Linked DNA regions of Homo sapiens. The protein of the gene in region 2 interacts with the protein of the main gene of each other region in a pairwise test. Each region holds a gene or a part of one and is shown on either strand. Other genes may lie near its edges.

What was found. Proteins that work in one complex are often made in the same cells at the same time.
Region 1: the proteins of CFAP58 (region 2) and NAV2 interact in binary tests that used the Homo sapiens proteins (3 or more experiments, as listed by UniProt).

Annotation. Positions count from the first base shown.
Region 1 is NC_000011.10:19,708,306-19,715,848, reverse strand, and holds the start of NAV2 (neuron navigator 2), read right to left. Parts: upstream 3,013-7,543; 5' UTR 2,154-3,012; coding exon 1,887-2,153; exon of another isoform or gene 1,177-1,886; intron 1-1,176. UniProt on the Homo sapiens protein: Possesses 3' to 5' helicase activity and exonuclease activity. Involved in neuronal development, specifically in the development of different sensory organs.
Region 2 is NC_000010.11:104,363,821-104,370,840, reverse strand, and holds part of CFAP58 (cilia- and flagella-associated protein 58), read right to left. Parts: intron 6,109-7,020; coding exon 5,952-6,108; intron 5,028-5,951; coding exon 4,833-5,027; intron 2,419-4,832; coding exon 2,281-2,418; intron 1-2,280. UniProt on the Homo sapiens protein: Has an essential role in the assembly and organization of the sperm flagellar axoneme. Required for the elongation of the primary cilium and sperm flagellar midpiece via modulation of the Notch signaling pathway.

The sequences.
Region 1 (7,543 bases), on a different chromosome or scaffold from region 2:
CCAAACTATGTTCACCATCAGTACACAAGGGCCCATTGAGGGCGAGAGAGGTGAAATGGGGGGATTATGGACCAAGGGCAAAAGAGGGAAGCAAAGTCTTGAGGGAAGTGGACTGTTCCAGCCCCTCAGAGAGAAGCTGAAGAACATTTTTTTTCACGGACAGGGTGATGAATCACCTTTCCAGAGCCTATGCACTGCCAGTCCTCTGACAATGTTTGTTAAATGAAGGGTCAAACGGGCAAAGGCAGAACAGCTGCCTGGATATGAACAATCCCAGCATGGACTTTCCCTCTCATTCCTCGGGTGCTCCTCATCAGGCTCGAGGGTATGTGTCACCTCCAGTCCCGAGTCACTGTACTGACCTCCCACCGACTGCCCACTACACCTCATAAACCCCAAGTCCATGGATGAAGGGAAACCCCATGCAGAAGTGTACCCTGGTGCTCACCCCCATGGCAGAGCCCACTGGACAAATCCTGTACGTAACAACAGAAGAAGAGCAGAGCACAAAACCCTCACAGAGGCAGGCCCCCGGAGCACTGGAGGAAATCTTGCCTTCCTCCCACACACCATCACTCAAACCTGTCAGCTTCCAAAAATGTTTAGCAAGTGCAGCAGCAAGGGGCATGCTTATCAGCCTGGTGTGGGAGCTTAATCTGCTTTGAGGGCCTTCTCCAGCCCAGAGTTCCAAAAGTCTGCTTACAATTAGCTTCAGCTCCAGTTCCCGCATCAGAAAGCCTAGGAACGTGTTGAGCTCTAGCCTCTGATCAGAGAAAGCTCCAGGAGAAGGTGGAGATGGTGTCAGCAGGGAAGTATGTGCCAAAAAGGTCAGCTGGTCTGTTGCCATTTTCCTGACACCAGCCCCAAACCACCTCCCCTCTGGCTTCCCGCCTCTCCTAACCGGACAGTCACATCCGTCAGGTCGGCCTGTCCCCAAAAGTCCCTGCTGACTGACTGCCAAGAAAATATAGCCCCCTCCTACCAGAAGAAGGGGGAAATGGAGCGGGGAGGACCAAGAGAACCTGATTGGCCCTTGCTAATTTCTGTAAAAGAGATTGCACGGCCAGGGCTTGTCTGGATGCAGGCTCTGTCTGGAAAGGTAGGAGTCACCAATTCTCTTCAAGCCATCTCCCATCCCCACGCCCCGTCACTCGGGCTACCAACACCAGGATCTACCACCCAGGAAGGAGGGGCTTAGCTTCGGCCGCCATTCTGAGGCAGCCACCTCCACCCCCACCCCCACCGCAACAGCCAGCCAAGGCGCTAGGAGTCTCCAGCTGCCGGCCTCAGCTGGTGCACTAGTACCGCAGTCCCAGCACCTTGCCCGGAATCCCGTCACCCCGCAGGATGGGGCAGGGACAGGTCATCTTCAAGCCAAGGGAAGAGCAGGTTCACTGCCACCCGCGATCCCCTTTTCTTCCTGGATCTTACAGCCAGGCTAGGGGGCGTCGAACCCAATGGGGCCTTAGATCATTCCTTGTCCGGAACAGAATCTCTGCGGAACCGCCAGACAGACACACAGCTGCTGCTGCGGATACTGGCTTCTTGGGGCCAAGACCTCAACATGCAGGACCTCACATTTCCAGCGATGCACACGTTTTTTGAGAACATCCCGACCTTTCCTCCTCCCCAGGAAGATGCTGCAGACGTGCCCGCCATCCCAGGTCTCGAAGAGCTCTTAAGGCAAACCTCCGGCACCCGGGCCACACCCACCGGCCGGCCCACTCTCCTCGCGCATCCCCCAACCTGCCGGCCTAAGGGGAATGGTTCCCTTCCCTGGCCACATGGTAGACCCTTCTCCCATCCAGCCCTTTCTCCCACACCATCCCGAAAGAACTATTCATCCATCCTTCCAGAACAGTACCCCGGCAAACGGCATCTCTCACCTGGGTATCGAACCCGTTTTCCACCGAGCCGCTCTTCCGCAGCGGGAGCCCCTCCCCCGCTGGCTCCTGCAGCCCCTGCAGCACCTGCGATTTCAGGGGGATCTGGCTAGGATAGGTGGTCTTGCTCACCTCCACCTTGCTTCCCAACTTCAGGTAGCAGGGCTGGGGGCCCGCCCGGGCCGGGGGCACGTGCAGGATGGGCGCGGCGCTGTGCACGGGTTTGGGCAGTCCCGACTTCATTTTGGAGGCGACCAGGATGGCCGGCATCTTCTCCCGGGGCTTGGGCTTTCCCAGCACGTCCCTGGCAGCGGCGGCGGGGGCGACCGCTAAAGGCAGCGCGGGTAGCAGAGCAGGCGCCGGGCCTTAGCCCACGAGGCGCCCACCACCAGCGGCTAAAAAAAAAATCCCCAGGTCGGGGAACTCGAAGCAATCGGGCGAGCGCGCCTTTGGGGTGCCGGGATGGGAATGGGGGACTGGCCACGGCGCTCAGCGGGTCCCACCTGGACGGATGCTGCCGCCGGGTCTCACACCTCTCCTGGGTGGCCTTTCAAGAGCTCTGGGCGCTCAGGGGCTGCCGCCTCTTGCAAATTTCCTCCTGGGAAACAGAGGCTTGGACGCCCATATTAACTTGTCACTGCATCTCCGAAGTGAGGAGGCCCCTTTGGAAGAGACAGAGGCGGCGGCGACCCACGAGTCCCGTTCCGGAGGCTACGGGTCTGAGCCGGCGAGAGAAAGAGCGAGCAGCCAAGGAAGGAAAGGAGACAGCAGCGAAGGAAGGAGAGAAGAAGGGCGCAAGGGTCCCAAGACGTCTCCACCGAGAGGCAGCTGCCACCCTGCTCGCGAGCACCGCAGTGTCACCCGCGACGCAGCAGAGGTGCGGCAAGAGCCCCCGAAAGGTCTCTCTTGGGGTGACAGTCACCGCTGCCCAGAAGGCCCCCGGACTGAGAGCACCTTAGCGCCTGCGGGTCTGCACATGCTCCGTGAGCTAGATAGAGGCAAGGCTGTGGCCGTGGGGCGCGGGCGCCGGGACGCGCGGCTGGCGGGCCGGGCAGGGCTGCGCTCGGGAGCGGCCGCCGCGCTTCCCGGGAAGGCTGCGCTGGCTGCGGGGCTCAGCGCAGGGGAGGACAGGCTGCTGCCGGCGCTGCTGCGGCGCGCGCTGACAGCCGGGGCCGCCCCGGCGCGCCCATTGGTCCACGGTGCGCCAATCAGCGGCCGCGGGTCTCACTGCAAAGAGGGTGTGGCCTAAACTCTGGCCGCCGCCGAAACTCTGGGGCCGCGCTTGGCCGCGAGTACAAAGCGGGCTGGTGGCCGCTTTGCGGCACTGCCCCGGCCGCGCGCCTCCCGGGGGGCCCACACCCCTGCGTTCCTGAAACCCTTCTTTTGAAAAATGCCCTTTCGAACGCAACCGTCCGCCCCAGAGCCACGCGGGCACGGCTCGAGGGAAGTTTGTTTCCTTTTTCAAATTGCTCCGGTCACCTTAACGGTTTGAGTCTTCCGGAGTCACGCCCGCAGCCTCGCTGCCCCCATCTGGCTTGGGCAGGGCCGAAGCTCGTCTCCCGCTTTAAGAGCGCGCCAGCCATTTCTCTGCCTGCTCTTCCAGGCCGGCTGGGCGGGGGGCCTCCCAACGGCTTCCTCTCCAGTTTTCAAAGGCTGCACATTTCACTTAACTATTTGAAGTATTTATAGGCAAATACAATACGCAGGGAAGCTTCCCGCCCCGAGACAGCTCCTCCACGCAACCTACCACAGACTCTGTAATTAGAGTGGCCTGAAGAAGCCGGGAGAGGCTCCATGACCCCGGCAGGCTCTGGCCAAACCTTGCTGCGTTTCATGGAGCCCCTCCCTGTCCGCGCCTGGGACGCACTGGCCCCAACAGGTTCCTCGACTCGAATTCGCTGTTTGGGTTGCTCTGTGGTTTCCTCGCTGACTGAAAGTGGATGAGAATAAGAAGGAAACTGAGAGATGATCAGGCAGGCCAGCCTTCGCGATTTATGAATGAGGAGCCTCCCACCCTGTAGAACTGCTTGGATTAGAAGTGGGCAAGTTATTTAAGCTTACATGCATGCTTATAAAGCTTCTGTTTTCACATGTAGTAAGGTGGAGGCTTGACGACATTTACCTAATGAGCTGTTGTTTGGATTAAATGAGATGGTTGGTGCATGGCAGTCATTTAGCACAAGTACCTGGCAATGTAAGAGACCAATAAAAGCTGGGCTTTATTTTCCCTGTTGTTAAATTACTGCTGCTTTCCCCCAAAGTCATCTCTGTTTATAAACTATTTGTCTTTCTTCTTTGTTTCCAGGACACTTTGTGCCCACCCTATAGCCTGATCTTCAGTGCTGATAGCATTGATTTAGAATAACTCAGATGCTATTAACTCTGTCCCCCTGGAATTCATGTTAAACCCGTAATCCCCAGTGTGATGGTATTAGGAGGTGGGGAACTTTAGGAGGTAATAAGGTCAAGACAGTGGAGCCCTCATGATAGGATTAGCACTCTTATTAGAAGAGACAGGAGAGAGATGCTTTCTTACTGCCTTGTGAGGACACAGAAGGCAGTCTTCTGTGGACCAGGAAGAGGGCCCTTACCAAGAATCTGATACCGTGTTGGCATCCTAGTCTCAGACTTCCAGCCTCTAGTACTGTAAGAAATAAATGTTTGTTGTTTAAGCCATCCTGTTTATGGTATTTTTGTTATAGTGGCCCAAAGTGACAAAGATCTCAGACCAGAGGAAACATCAAAGTCTTAACCTCTGAAGCATTAAGAAATGAGAAGGCACCTTCTTAGCCATTCTAGGTAGCAACTTTCTACTCTAGTTAGGCTGAAATGCACGGCCCTGTCTATGTCTGTTTCAGTTATCCTCCCTCTCTCTGAAATCAAGTCACACATCATTCATGCTACTTACTTAACACTTTGCCCTTTGCCATCTGATGCCACCTCCCGTACTATTGTCTCCCATTATTTAACCTGTTATTTATTGTTTCATGCATTCATTTTCATCTTAGAGAATAAACATCTTGGAATTAGGAGCTGTGTTTTAACTTTCTTTAGATCTTCTCAGTATGGAGCATAAAGCTGTGGACAGAATAGCTACCCAACATTTATACTGAATGAATGATTGAATGATGCTAGAAGAAGGAGAGATTGTCTTTTAGATTTAGGAACATAAGGACATACGAAATATTATGCTATAAACCTTGGGACTCTTTTGCCTGCCCTGAATTCTAGTTCTGACCAGTGTACCAAGATTTGTGGAAAGATATCACAATCTTCAGCTTCTAAAGATCAGGGAGATATTCCAAAGTATTCCCATGGCCCTAATGCAGTGGTTCTCAAAGTGTGGTCCCTGGAGCTGCAGAAGCATTACCTGGAAACTTGTTTGAAAGCTCCACCCAGACCTATTGAATCAAAAGCCCTGGGGATGGGGCCCAGCAATCTGTGTTTCAACAGTGTTCAACCTAGTGATTATGATGCATACTAAAACTTGAGATATTCTGCCCTAATGAATATATCATGCATTCAGTGCATCTCCAGAACTTCTTAAACCTTAATATGCCTAAGAATCACTGGGGATCTTGCTAAAATACAGATTCAGATTCAGTTGGTCTAGAATGGGGCTGAGATTCTGCTTTCCGAGTAAGTTCTCATGTCATGCACATGCTGGTGTTCTAAAGATCACGCTTTGAGTAGCACAGACAGCAGGAGGATTTCATCTTAAGGGCCATCTACTGAAAAGGATCTCAGAGTGCATCCATCTAGTTGGAAATAGCCGCCTGATCACTTGATAATGTCTGCTATGGGTATATAAATGGAAATAGTGAAATACATATTATGTATTTGCCATCTTTGGTTTCCTGTTTAAATTGTATTTACTGCCAAGGTCATTTCGGGGTTCTGAGACCCTCAAATATGCATAAATATGAACAACAGTATTTCTTTTAAAGTATTTCTAATGTTCTAGGATTGGTAAACATGAGCATTTCCCTTAACCCTGTGTGTTTTATATAACTAAATTCTGATAATTCTTCATTTTTCTTGATGAAAGATCTTTCACTTGAGGACAAGTGAATCTTTTAGTCTGTTTCCAAATTTCTTTCTTTTCCTGCCTCTTCTTCCCTTTAGTAATTCTATTTGCTTTTTCCTGGAGCATTATTTATCTCCTTTTTTTTTGTGACCGAGTTTTGCTCTAATTTCCCAGGCTGGAAGCTGGAGTGCAATGGCGCGATCTTGGCTCACTGCAGCTGGGATTACAGGCGCATGCCACCACACCCGGCTAATTTTTGTATTTTTAGTAGAGACGGGGTTTCGTCATATTGGTCAGGCTGGTCTGGAACTCCAGACCTCAAGTGATCCACCTGCCTTGGCCTCCCAAAGATTCATCTCCTTTTATATCTTTTTTTTTTTTTTTTTTTTTTTGAGACGGAGTCTCACTCTGCTGCCCAGGCTGGAGTGCAGTGGCACGATATTGGCTCACTACCCAGGAAGCTCCGCCTCCTGGGTACACCCCATTCTCCTGCCTCAGCCTCCTGAGTAGCTGGGACTACAGGCACCCGCCACCATGCCCAGCTAATTTTTTGTATTTTTAGTAGAGACGGGGTTCCACCATGTTAGCCAGGATGGTCTCGACCTCCTGACCTCGTGATTCGCCCGCCTTGGCCTCCCAAAGTGCTGGGATTACAGGCGTGAGCCACCGTGCCTGGCCCTATCTCCTTTTAGATATTTTCTATAAACGTTCATTTTTCTTATTTAAAGCAAAATAATTTATCATAATAACCAGACAAGGGTGGGGCGGGGGGAAGCTATTTTTTCTCCTAGGATAAATGAGATAATTATAAGTTTCTTACTTAAATAAGATAATCTCAAATTATAAAAACGGCCTATAAGTTTACTCCTTCCACACTGATACTGTGTTAACATGAAAAACGTCATTTTAAATCAATGTTTTGCAAGCATTGGAGGCTAACGCAAGTCACTGGTTTGGAGAATGGCAAGCTGCTCTGGAAAGAATACACTATCCAGGTATTAAAATAACTTTTTTCTTTTTTTCTTTTTTTTTTTTTTTTACTATATGCATTATGGACAAGTATGCCAAGTTGAAATGGCCCACCATTTTAAATTCCAACTTTGACAACCATTCTTTATTTTTCTTCTGGCTCAGAACTTGCAGAATCACCCAAATGTCAGTGATAGGCCAAATTGAAACGTATTATCAAAGCTCTCAGGTCCACTGAATCATCCTAAGAGACTGGATAGTTCCCTGGTTCTAAGAGCCATCCTCAGATCAGGAAGTGCCAGCTGCACCCCTCTCTGCTCCTCAACGTCAGCCACTTGTGATTAGTTGAGTGTGAATTGGGCTTCAGACCTGACCTGTGAGTGACCAGTTCCATCAACCCATCCTTCATCTTAGTTAAAGACCCCTGTTGGCCTGACCTCCCAAGAAGACAGTCCGGTGAAGAGCCTGGAACATCTAAGGCCCAGCCTGTCACAAAAAAATGCAGGGATCTTGGGGGGAAAAGTCTACAGCCTTTTGGAGACCCTAGATTATACATGATGAGGGGAAATGTTGCAAAGTTTCTTGAATAATATAAAAAGCAAAATATTTATGAGTTTATTTGGGAGTAAAAAAAATGCACTTTTCCTTAATTTTCTACAAATGG
Region 2 (7,020 bases):
CTGGATGATGGTAAACTCAGAACCAATAAAAGGAAATTCTTCCCATGGCATTTTAAAGTTGTTCTGTGAGATTAAATCAAGCACACACAATTTGGTTTTGAGAGAAATTGAAAAACTGTCCACTGAATAAAATATGTGGTTATGTTTTATATTTTTATAAACTAAAAATAATAAAAACACTGAAAAATTTTGTTTCAAGTTACCATCTGAAATGGTTTGGCTGTGTCCCCACCCAAATCTCACCTTGAATTCCCACGTGTTGTGGGAGGAACCCGATGGGAGGTAATTGAATCACGGGGGCAGGTCTTTCCCATGCTATTCTCCTGATACAAACTAAGTCTCACGAGATCTGATGGTTTTAAAAAGAGGAGTTCCCCTACACAAGTTCTCTCCCTTTGCCTGCTGCCATCCACATAAGATGTGATTTGTTCCTCCTTGCCTTCCACCATGATTGTGAGGCCTCCCCAGCCATGTGGAACTGTAAGTCCAATTAAATCTCTTTCTTTTGTAAATTGCCCAGTCTTGGGTGTGTCTTTATCAGCAGCGTGAAAATGAACTAATACACCATCTAACTGTAGAATCAAATAAGATAAGAATGCTAAGTTGTACGTATCAAAAATATGTGAATTTTGTATACAGTATTTGATTAGCAATTTTCATGAACTTGTGAAGTGATCTCTCTCAGATGGTTATTAACATATATAAAATATTCAAACACTCTTTTGGACTCACTGGGCCATTGTAGGTCAATTATATACACTAGAGAAGGGGTCCTCCTTCCTCAAAGTATGTTGGTCTCTAGGTATACATATGGATAAGTGGACCAGATATTTCATAGTATGAATAGGCAGTCTATAAAATGGCAAACAGTCCCCAAAAATAATCCTAGCAAAGAAAAGCACCCGATTTTTGTCTAAAGACTTCAAGCTTTCCAGATTTTGGAAATTTTAATTAAATTCACTTTTTTAAAATTTTGCCATTAGAAGTGACTGGAAAAGCAGCTGGGATTCTTTTGCGAACAAAGGTTAGCAATTATCTCAGCTCATAACAATGAAGAGACCAAAATTAGCTGTTCATGTTATCCTCAGATTATTGCTAGAGGCTGAATCCCATTAGGCTCATGATCTGATAACAGAAATAGTCCATCTTTCAAAATGCCCCATTCATATTATCAAGGGAAAGAATTAATGGCATGAGTCTTTTTCCTTTAATTTTACCTTAGGGGCTAATACATTATTTTGACTTAAGTAGTCATCTCATCTCTTCTTTAACTTATTGCATTCTCATAAAGAATGGTTTCAAGTCTACCCATTCTGGGCTGTTTTAAAAGTTTTTCAGCGTCAGACCCTCAGACCCTATAGGGTTCAAATTAGTCGATGTTAAGGCCTCTCCATTTCTAAGATGTTTTAATTCAGTGGTTATTAATCCAGACCCCACAGTTAGACTTCAGAAAAATCCTGGAAACCTCTCCTATTTCTGGGATGCATGCAACACAAGATGTAAGATATGCAAATAAGTGTGTGCATGTGTATATTACCATCAGATTCTCAAAAGAGTTTGTGATATAAAAATGTTATGGTTCTCTGCCCAAATCTATGTATTATTCTTGCTAGGCCACTCTTTTTACATCCAGTATTCTAACATAACCAGAGTAGGGAATATGGATTTTTTTCAGAATTAAAGTGATAAACGTAAAGCTGCTCTGTTAAGCAGGTAGGCATACAATATACATCGGAGTATAAACTGTTATCTAAACTATCTAAATTGAAGAATTTGCAAGCACTCTTCAATGAGAGCAAGGAGAAGAATAGGAAATCTGTCTCAAAATATACATTGGACAGAAGTGAAAATCATGATTCCACAATCCTGTAAGTAGACCCTAGGTAGTATCAGTCTCTCTCCCAGCCATTCCATCCCACCTTCTCCAACAAGCAGTAACTATAATCTGAATTTTTTGCTGTTCACACGTGTGAATGGATTGCTAGATTTGAGCAACTGGTTTCTTGCAAAGCTAGTTACAGAGATAGACATCTGAGCTCACTTTGGAAACCATTTGCATAACCATATGATCAATAATCAGGTTTGCAATTTTACAAGAATGGAAGTCATCAAACTCTGCTTCTGGGCCTAAAGCAATCACTATAGGCTTGCACCTGCCTCTGATGTGTCAATGTACTCAGTAGAGCCAACACAGGCTCTCCAACTGAGGGCTCCAATTGCCAAGGCAAACCTGTGTTAGGAAGAAAGAGCTAGGGAACAGACATGTAACTTGGTGTTTACTTTGAGCTCCAACGCCTTCTGTTGGTTTTCCTGGGATAGCTGCTCACAGACCAAACTGTGCTGTTCATTCTCTTGCTGAAGTTTAGCATTTCTCATCTGAAATTGCTCGAGTTCCTTTGCAGCTCTCTCATTCAATATCTGAAAGGGATGGAATGAGCTGGTTAATGCTTTTTAATCTGATTACAATAGTTGGATATACACACAGGGGGCCCCACAAACCTCCTGGGAAGATAACAGCAACCCTGAGTTTTTGTCTTTGTAGAAATTGTTCTTTATTCCCGATGAAAGCACTAACGCACTCAAATATGATGAATGTTAAACGGTTGAGGAAAATGATGCCTTCTAATGAATAACACAGTGAGCATAATTTTTTTTCTGAGAGCCTTGGGAAGTCTTGTTCACAGGTGGTGGATAAATATTTTAATGCCTGTTTGCCATTTGGCAGGCTTCGCATATGCAACAATTGCTATAATCATTGCAAATGAGCTAGAGATTCAAACGGATTTTATAAGCTGTGGGGCTCGGAAGCTACATCTTCAGAAGCAAATCCTGCATTAACATGCCTACAACATTTTTGTCAACAGAACTGTTCACTAACACCAACACAGAGACAATTTTCTTTTAATCTAACTTAAGTCGAAACCGTGGAACAGCAGCAAAGTGATTTATATCTGCTTGAGTGCAGTGTCAGCCAGATTTTCCTCTTCCCTGCCTTGACTATCCTAAGCAGATATGGTTTTATAAAAACAAAGGATTATATCTTGGGGGCTCATTTCTATTGGGGGAATATTGAGGAGGTGGAGGGATAGCAAATGAATTGCAGGATAAAAATAGAAAGCCAGTTTAGGTAATGTCTCCAAAATATAACTTCCATGCACACAAAAATTAAGCATGAAAAGAATCCAGCTAATTCTCCATCAATAGGGACTAAATAAAATGTAACCAGTTATGCTAAAAATGAAATTGTGTTTCATAGGAGAATAGTTTTTATCCTGATGTCCAAAAGCCTCTCTTATGTTTCATGCTCAAAGAAGTCTCATGTTTTTCTGCTGGAGGCGGCACACTGTGAATTATCTATTTGACTTCTGACTTTATACAAAATTAATAGAGCAACGGACAAAAAAAAAGTATATTTATATCTATTTTTGAGTATAAAACTGCTATATGGCTTGACAATTCTTTGGAAACAAGCTTCCTGAGGAAAAACATATTTAAGAAAAGACTTTTCAATTATATGAATTGCTTCTTTAAGAAATGAGAGAAAACATAATACAATTACTAATACTTGTGTCACCCTAAACTGCTATAATAGAGGAAGTGTTAAAAACAGTACCATATTAAAAATACATAAAGACTGACCCTAGTTTGCTAAACTTGAAAATAACTTAAAAATAAACCTGTCGGCTGGGTGCGGTGGCTCATGCCTGTAATCCTAGCACCCTGGGAGGCCAAGACAGTTGGATTACTTGAGGTCAGGAGCTCGAGACCAGCCTGGCCAACATGGTGACACCCTGTCTCTACTAAAAATATAAAAATTAGCCAGGCATGGTGGCAGACTCCAGTTACTCGGGAGACTGAGGCAGGAGAATCGCTTCAACCCAGGAGGTGGAGGTTGCAGTGAGCTGAGATCATGCCACTGTGCTCCAGCCTGGGTGACAGAGAGACTCCATCTCAAAAAAAATAAAAATAAAAATAAAAATAAATAAATAAAAATAAAACTGTTAAAAATAAATTGTTATACTCACCCAGTGGAATACTGCACAGCAATGAGAGCTCATGCTCTACTGAGCTCTGTCCAATAGAGCTTTCTGCAGTGATGTAAATGTTCTCTGTCTGTGCTAATATGGCATCAACTAGCCATCTGTGGCTACTGAGTACTTGAAATGATGCTGGTACAACCAAGGAAATGAATTTTTAATTTAATTTCATTTTAATAAAGTTGAATTTAAATAGCCACTTGTTGCTAAGGGTTACCATATTGGGCATCACAAGTCTATAACTACATGGCAACAACATGAATATATCTCACAAACAGAATATAGCAGAAGTTAGACACAAAGAATATATCCTGTAATATTTTATTTCTGTAAAGTATAAAGACAGGCGAAACCAAACTCTGCTTAGAATTCAGGATAGAGATGGTATTTTAGGGGGAGAAGGACTAAGAGGGAGCACAAAAGGGCTTCTGGGGGTGCTGGTAATGTTCTGTTTCTCTGGCTGGGAGCAGGTGACCAAGATGCGGTTGAGTGGTGAAAATTCATCAAGCTGTCCACTTGTGACATATACACTTGTCTATATGTGTAGTATAGATCAATAGAAGGTTAAAAAGAAACTTATTAACCTGTTAGAGCTGGGAAATTTAAAAGGGGGGGCATAACTACCTCATAAGAGCCATTCAAAGACCAAATTGCAGTGCTAAGTTTTACATCATCAGCACGAGTAGTGAAGGGAATTTGCTGCTTTCCAAGAGAATTCAAAATGCACAAAAGGGTGAATAAAGGTGCCATTCTGGGTTTTTCTTGGTTTTTTGCGAAGACCCACACCCAACTCACCTTCTGCTCCTTCAGCTGCTGCTCCAGCTTCTGAAGCTCCTCCTTGCTCTTCTGCACATACTGCTGCAGGGCTTTTATTTCTGTCTGCCTGCTGTCCATGTCTGCCTGAATCTGCTTGAGCTCTTTCTCTAGTTTTTCCTTCTTCCGGAACTCCCGGGAAGCTTCGTTCTGACGTTGCTGGATTTCTTGTTGGAACTAGAGGTTGCGGAAAGGACAAGAGAGAAAGAGATGAGCCCTGACCATGGCAGGTCTCAGCCAGCCAAGCCCCCTCCTCTCTCAGGTCTGTGATTGTCAAGGCAGCACTTTGCAGTAGCATTTCCCCTATAGGGCAGACATCCTTGAGCCCCAGTGTTCAAACTTTTCAGGAATATTCTATACTGTTTCTTGGGGCCTTGAAATCAAATGACTACCCTGATGGTGGGCAACAAATCCACAAAGTGTGGTATAAAATCAAATACATATGGAAGCTCAGAGTTCTAGGGGCGTTAAACATGGAAAGAATTCATCCCGTTCTTTATCAATAGGGACTAAATAAAATGTGGCTAGCTACCCTAAGTATAAAATTGTGTTTTACATGACCCTGGATATTGCTAAAGAGAGCATTATAGGTTTATCTTGATGTCCAAATGCTATGAAAAGCCTTTTTCTTATCTCATGTTCAAAGAAGTCTCATGTTTTTCTCTTGGAGACTGCACATTGTGTATGACCTATTTGACTTCTGGCTTTATGTAAAAGTGTTCAGAAGAAGTCTGCTAAATGGCTTTCTAATAAAAATAAATAAATAAATAAGTAGGGCCAAAGAAACTACTTCCACCACCCCCAGATGTTGGGCCCCCTGGCCTTCATGGAGATCATCTTTTTGAGCCAGAATTGTAAGTAGGGAGTGCCCGCCTCAGTGACTTCTCAGACAGAGAATGCAGAGAAAGAACAATTCAAGTCGTTCAAATCAAGTAAAGCTCCTCTCAAGAGAACAAACTAAAGAAACAAGCAGAACTGAGGATGTTTCATTTGGGCGCTAGGGGGTAAATTTGAGAAAGGAGCAAGATGGGAATAGAGACTGTGGAGGGACAAACATCCTCTGGAAGGAAATATTCCTTCTTCTTGCCCTCCATGGCAGACCTGACTGATGGCATGTTCAGCCTCCTCTTTTGATCGCTCTGTTTCCTGCTGCTGTTCAGTGGTCTGAGCTAGGGATTCTCGTAATTTTACCACTTCTGATAAGAGCTGGTCTCTCTCCTTTGTCACTTCTTCTTTGAACCTCAGTAAATCTCGGATGCTAAAAAGGAAGAACACAGGAGTCAGACTAAATGGCCATCTGCTCAGGGGTCCTTCATATCATTCTCTGAGTTCATTTTCATGGGAAAGATGTCAGGTCAATGATTAACACTATTCAGACATTAAAGAGAAAGATCTTTATGCCATGATATGGGATCAGATTGTGAAATGTTAACTGGAAAGAAGTACTAATGATAACATGCATAGTATAATTTATTTTTTTATTTTTAAGAAAATACAATGTCTATTCATGCGTGTGAGAGTGTGTGTGTGTGTGTGTGTGTGTGTGTGTGTGTGTGTGTGTGTTTTACAGACATTTTTACAGAGCCCAGAAAAACATATCACTGATTATCTCTGAGAAATTTAGGGTGGAAAGTTGTGGGGGTTGATACTTTCCACACCTCTGTATTACTTGAATTTGTTATGATAAGACTATATTGCTATTGTCAACTCTGGTAATTAATCCTAAGCAGATGTCAATTTAGGAAACTATTTGTTTAATATATCCACTGGAGGGCTATGATCACAGCTATAAACTCTAGAATAAAGCATAAACAGAACAAAATAATATGCATTGCTAGTTTTCTATCAATTTACCCAAAAAGATTAGTTTCTCCCAAATGAATGCAGCCCAGATAAAATGTTACAAAGAACAAAATTGGGAAAATCATTCATGATGCCCATTTTTGGAGGTTATGTGATAATATTCATTGATTTGAATTGTAAACCAGTTACCTCCAAATTTCAAAAGCCATTCCATATGATTTGGCATGACTTCCTGCAGAATTAGCACTTTGCAATTGGAAGCTCAGTGTCTGATACGACCTCTGCAGCAGAATGAATGTAGAGCAAGGCAGCTCTTGGAGCTGAGAAGGCAGAGGAGAACTTGCACTGCAGACTCTTGCAGCTGACA